Homo sapiens: one gene and its partner. The protein of the gene in region 2 purifies or fractionates together with the protein of the main gene of each other region. This does not show direct contact. Each region holds a gene or a part of one and is shown on either strand. Other genes may lie near its edges. The genes, in order: TTC28 and KHDC1.

Region 1 (3,500 bases), on a different chromosome or scaffold from region 2:
TCCAGCCTGGGCGACAGAGACTCCGTCTCAAAAAAAAAAGTTAACTGCGAATGTTAAATAAGAGAATGCATTATTATTGTATGTAGCTTCCCCCCCTTACCTGGTACGTACTTGGCATTTCTATGCCATAATGGAAGTCAAAAATCACCATGATATTGTTTCAACATACTATGGACGTAGTTCAGAAAATGTTAGGACAAATTTGATATCAACATTCTTTGCACTCACAGAATTGCATAAAGAGTATCACTTTGGTAAAGATGAAAATTACTAAGATTATTGTCCTCTAATGTCAATCATCATAAAATGAATATCAAATTAGCATTGATACTTATATTTTGCTAAAACATGCCTATAGAAAACTGGTTAGTGTTTGTTTTTGGAAGACTATAGATAATACAGTGTGAATATACAAGAAACATGAGATGTTCCAAGCATCATATTTGTATCATACTATGTCTCTAGTTTCTCTTCTTAGAAAATAACAATGCACCCAGCTGCTGAAGAGACACCAAAATAAATGTTCTACCAAGTTTAAGTTCAAACATCAGGCTTCCCGCTAACAGTTTTTAAAATAGCAATAATTTAAAGGAAGAAAGATTGTAACCATGAAATTTAATGAAAAAATATTGTTTCTGCTTTCAGGAAAAAAAGTAGTGAAAAAACAGCACACAAAACAAGAATCATAGAGTAAAAATAAAGAGCTTTCAATTATACTTTTATTATTTTTAATATTTAAAATTCACTGTCAAATATTCTATATAGCAACCTTGATTTCACATGCATTTGCAATACAACTATGTGGTATGAGAGACTTGTCTTCTTTAGTGGTTCCTCAAGCGCTCACAGGGATTTCTTGGGTCGTAGAAAGGTGATGGGGACAGGAAGAGGCTTGGGGTTTCTGTTTGTGGTTTTTTCTTTGTGGTTTTTTTTTTTTTTTTTTTTGGTCTGTGGTTTTGGAGTTTTTGTTTTTCTTGGTTTTTGATTGGGTTTGTCTGTTTTTTGTTTTGTGGCTCACTTTTAACTGGAATTAATTAGCAGAAGAAGATAAAAAACAAATATCAAATCCCTACCACAGGCAAGGCATTGTTCTAAATATATACCTACATCCTCTTTTATTTAACAATTCTTTGGAATGGATATTACTATGCAATTATACATATGAGAACCATAAGATGCGTAAGAGTTAAGACCTGTTGGCTGGAGCAGTGGCTCAAGCCTGTAATTCCAGCACTTTGGGAGGTTGAGGCGGGTGGATCACTTGAGGTCAGGAGTTCAAGACCAGCCTGGCCAACACGGTGAAACCATGTCTCTACTAAAAATACAAAATTAGCTGGGCATAGTGGTGCACATCTGTAATCCCAACTACTTGGGAGGCTGAGGCAGGAGGATCACTTGAACCCAGGAGGCAGAGGTTACAGTGAGCCAAGATCACACCACTGCACTCCAGCCTGGGCGATGGCGAGACTCTGTCTCCAAAAAAAAAAAAAAAAAAAGGTAAAACATGATCATTGTAAAAATCCCAGCTGTCTTTTTTACAGAAATTGATAAGCTGATCCTAAAATCCATTTGGAAATATAAGGGACCCAAAATAGCCAGTCTTGAAAAAGAACACAGTTAAAGGACTTACACTTAATTTCAAAACCTATTACCAAGCTACAGTAATGAAACAGTGTAGTACTGGCATAAAGACAGAAAGAAATACACATCAAGAGAACAGAACTTAAGAGTCCAGAAATAAAACCTTATATATGTTCAAGTGATTCTCAAAAAAGATGTGAAGACCATCAATAAAGGAAAGGACACTCTTTTCAATATATAGTGCTGGGATAACTTTTTGTATCTATATACAAAATAATAAATTTGGACCACATACCACACACACCTCACACCACACACAAAAATTAAAACAAAATGGATCAACAACCTAAATATAAGGGCTAAAAGCATACAACTCTTAGAAGAAAACATAGGGGTAAATCATAGGGCTAAATCTTCATGACCTTAGATTTGGCAATGGCTTCTTAGACATGAAACCAAAATCATGAGCAACAAAGAAAAAACAGATAAGCTAGACTTCCTCAAAATTAAAAACTTTTTTGGCATCAGAGGACATTATCAAAAGAGTAAACCGGGTGTGGTGGCTCACACCAGTAATCCTAGCACTTTGGGAGGCAGAGGCTGGTGGACCACTTGAGCCCAGGAGTTCCAGACCAGCCTGGGCAACACGGCAAAACTCCATCTCTACAGAAAATACAAAAATTAACCGTGCCTGTAGTCCTACCTGCTCAGGAGGCTCAGGTGGGAGGATCAACTGAGCCCAGGGAGGTCCAGGCTGCAGTGAGCTGTGATCCTACCACTGTACTCCAGCCTGGGCGACAGAGTGAAACCCTGTCACACACACACACACACACACACACACACACACACACACAATGTAAAAAGAGGCATGAGCCTCTTTTATAGCTGCAGTGGCTCACATCTGTAATCCCAACACTTTCTGGGAGGCTGAGGTGAGAGGATCTCTTGAGGCCAGGAGTTCAAGATCAGCCTGGGCAACATAGCGAGACCCCTTATCTACAAAAAATTTTTAAATATTTGCCAGGTGTGGTGGCACGTGCCTGTAGTCTTAAACAATTATCATATGACCCAGATAGTCTATTCCTTAGGTATATACCCAAGGGAAATGAAAATATACATCCACACTAAAATTTGTACACAAATGTTCATAGCAGCATTATTCATAATAGCCGAAAATTGGAAAAAAAAACTCACGTGCCTATCAACAGAGGAACTGATAAAATATGGTATATCCATTCAAAAGATTACTCAGCATTAAAAAAGAATGAAGTGCTGATATACGCTACAGCATGGATAAACCTTGAAAACACTGTGCCACGTGAAATAAGTCAATCACAAAAGACCATATGTAGTAAGATTTCATTCTGTGAAACCTCCAGAAGAGCTAAACTCAGAGACAGAAAGTAGGCTAGTTATTGCCAGGGACTAGGGGAAAAGGCAATAAGGATGACTGCTAATGGGTATGGGATTTCTTGTGGACTGATGAAAATGGTCTGAAAGTATCTAGATACCTGTCTTGTTTGTGTGATTCTGTGAACATATTATAAACCACAAAATTCTGCACTCAAGGGGATTTCATGGTAGGTGAATTTATCTCATTTATCTTTATCTCAATAAAGCTTTTTAAAGACACTTTAAAAAGACATATCTGTATAAGCTACAAAAATAACACACTGAGAGACTAAAATGCCTAATTTTTCCATTTTTCTTCTTCAGCGCAATCTCAAGTCCAAAAGTCTTTCCTTCCTATATATGCATATTTTGTCCAGTGAAACAAGAAACTCTATTTTTTTATTAGAAATAAAAAAAAAAAAAAGCCAGGTGTGGTGGCTCACAGTTGTGCTTCCAGCTACTCAGAAGGCTGAGGCAGAAGGATCACTTGAGGTCAAGACTGGGAGTTCAAGACTAGCTGAGGCAAC
Region 2 (3,221 bases):
ATAGCAAACACTGTTTGCAGCACCTCGCTAAAACATTACTGCTCAGGCAGAACAGTTTTGTGGCAAGGTTAAAAGACTACCTGTCTCTCTAGAACAGATTCAGATAGAGTTGGGGCATGATTTCATGGCCTGGTTTTGAAATCTAGTTCTTTGTCTTTGCAACCTGTTGCTAGGATTAATAACTATTTTGTTTCCAGGACTTACCTGAATTTGACTAGTACATCTTGTTCAGCCTTAAATGCTACTGTAGAGTCATTATATATTCACTGTGTGTATTTTGCAAGAAAATGTACATGAGAGATCAACTGTATGCAGATGTAGAGAAGGTTCTCCCGATAAACTTGTGACAAGTGGATTCTGACAATGGTGTAGATCTGAACCCCACAGATGAAATTCCTGATGGCTGACTTTGTCTTTGGTCAAAAGTTGAGGCTGAAGAGTGAAAAAGCACCTAGGAACTCACAGTTGGGAGCTGACAGGCATAGTTGAATCTTCCCTACCAAACATAAACATCTCCTGCTAAATATTTTAACCAGTCAAGGTTGCTCAGTGATTGTCATGCAACAAGGTGTAAAAAGTCCATCTGTAACTATATTTGAAACCAGAGAGAGAGAACATTCCACAATGAAGACCACATTAATCTCTTTACTTCCCTTCCTAGATAAATTTACCAGGATAATCACCAAATTGCCCCATTTTAGAAAACTGGCCGCTACACCCTAAACACTCCTTAGACTCACCCAGTCAACTCCTACGATTGGCTCCCTACAACATTCTTCTGTTTGTGTAAAGTGTATTTTCCCGTGTTGTTTGCTCTCCCTTGATGCAGCACACCAAACAAACCCCGTCTTGTTGGAATACACTCTGGTCATTGGGTGACTGCCAGCACCTGTGCAAATCTAGGGAGCCCATTTGGAGCCTTCTTGCACCTCCATCCCTCAACCCCTGTCCTGGTTCATACCCAGTAGATCTGCTCCAAAATCCTTTGAATTTAGAATGAAGAAAAAATTTTGATTCCGGGGCATCAGAAAGGCAAGCACTAATCAGATGATTAAGTTTGGCATGAAGGATTAAGCTCAGAACAGATAATTACTTGGAATGAATTATCTTGGGAAGAGATACCGGGATTGTACACCCACCCTAAGGTAGTTCAAGGGGCAGGTTGTTGGGTTCCTATGTTAAGGACAGAGCCTAGGCCCTCCCTCACTTTTCCAAGTCTTTTGCCAACCAGTTGCTTGGACTTGGCCCTATTCTGTATCAGGTCGGAGCAGAGCATGGACATGGGAACGAGTGCTCTCAGCAAGAAGCCGTGGTGGACCCTGCCTCAAAACTTTCATGCACCAATGGTGTTTCACATGGAAGAGGACCAGGAGGAGCTCATCTTCGGTGAGTGGCCTTTGCCCACGTCCCCTTCTTCATCCTTGTCTTCTCAGTTTTCACTCTTCCTCTCCCCTCCCACCTTCATCAGTCACATATTCCTACCCTGAAGGCCACCTCCCCATTCCCTAAGGGCTGGTGCTTGACAGAACCTCCTCTCACCTCTTATGCTCACAGGGCATGGTGACACATACCTTCGCTGCATTGAGGTGCACAGCCACACCCTTATTCAGCTGGAGAGTTGGTTCACAGCTACAGGCCAGACTCGTGTGACTGTAGTCGGACCACACAGGGCAAGGCAGTGGCTGCTGCACATGTTTTGTTGTGTGGGGAGCCAGGACTCCTATCATCATGCTCGAGGTAGGTATCCTTGGCTGAACTGTGGTTTTAGACTTGGTGGTGGAGTTCTGGCTAAGTTGTGTAGCATCTTGGATTCTTGAAGAATCCCTTGTGTGGCTGGGGAATCCAAGTGCTTCCCAGAGTCCATTGGGAAGAAAAGTGCTCATCTTTTTTTGTGGCATGAGATTGCTTAAGGTGGAGAGGTAGCTGGGAGGTGTAAATGGGCTACCTTGGAAGGTCTGGGCTGGGGTGACATCCTCCCTGCAGCCTCCCTGATGGAGTCCAGGCCTGCCAATGGGCCCCAGTTATGGGCCCTGGTTCATTAGCCCTGGGCACTTATTTTGCAGGCCTGGAGATGCTGGAACGTGTCCGAAGCCAGCCTCTGACCAACGATGACCTGGTCACCTCCATTAGTGTGCCACCATACACTGGAGACCTGTCTTTGGCTCCCAGGATAAGTGGAACCGTGTGTCTTAGCGTTCCTCAGCCTTCCCCTTACCAAGTGATTGGTTGTTCGGGTTTCCATTTGAGTTCACTGTATCCGTAATTAAGGACTGATCTCCCCTGGGAAGTGGGGATGAGAGGAGAAATCTTGGCTTCACTTTTGGTGAGAAAGACATGATAGACACTGAGGAAAGTTTGAACTTGTGGCCGGGACCTGTCCCTCTCAGGTCTTCTAGACATGTCTGAGGGAAGTCTCTTGAATGTAAGAAAGTGTTATTGGCAAAGCAATCCAATAAAATAAGCTACCTATGATGCAAAGCCTTCGATGTACTGTCCTTTTTCCTTAGGATGAAATTATTCACCCCAGAGTTTTCTTGCACCTTAAAGTGCAGACAAATGGGGAGAATGGAAAGGTGGGAGGAAGGGTCCAGACAGAGATGGAAGGTGTTCCCACCACAACTGCCTGGTGAAGTAGGCAGCCAGGGAAGCTGGTGAACATGAGGTAGCCAGCCTTGTCCCTGATTGCCCAAGTTTGTGGGTGGGGGTGGGGGTGGGGGTGGAGGGGGTGGTTTTCAGGGAGCAATGGATTCTGAAGTCCCTCATGCCATGAATTAAATCAAATACGAAGGCTTCCTGAATCTCCATTGAAGAACGTTCTCCGATTGCCAAGTCTATATTTGGATCTGTCTAGGCAAGATTATGGCAAGCTAAACCTGTCCTCAGCTGAACTCTTCCTCTTCAAATTTGCCCCTTCTCCAGCAGCCTGCATCTTATATTGAGGCAATTGCAGTACTCTAGGAGAGTGACGATGGTGACTTGGACCAGAGTGGAGTGGTTGAAGTGTTAGGAAATGGTTGAATTTGGAAAATAATTTGAAGCCAGCAAGATTTGCTAATTACATGGTTTTCAGAAGGCCAATTACCAAATAAAGGTTAAAAGATCATATTCACAGTAGAAAAACACTTAGAGAAAATGTCGAAAGAATTCAGGTTATAGTAGTCAAATGCTGTGGCTCATGCCTGTAATCCTAGCACTTTGGGAGGCTGAGAAGGGCTCAGGTG

Evidence for each region.
Region 1: the proteins of KHDC1 (region 2) and TTC28 purify together in Homo sapiens (affinity purification with mass spectrometry; one large-scale study listed by BioGRID and IntAct). This does not show direct contact.

Annotation. Positions count from the first base shown.
Region 1 is NC_000022.11:28,673,341-28,676,840, forward strand, and holds part of TTC28 (tetratricopeptide repeat protein 28), read right to left. Parts: intron 1-3,500. UniProt on the Homo sapiens protein: During mitosis, may be involved in the condensation of spindle midzone microtubules, leading to the formation of midbody.
Region 2 is NC_000006.12:73,240,571-73,243,791, reverse strand, and holds the end of KHDC1 (KH homology domain-containing protein 1), read left to right. Parts: intron 1-1,261; 5' UTR 1,262-1,274; coding exon 1,275-1,386; intron 1,387-1,554; coding exon 1,555-1,737; intron 1,738-2,063; coding exon 2,064-2,263; 3' UTR 2,264-2,478; downstream 2,479-3,221.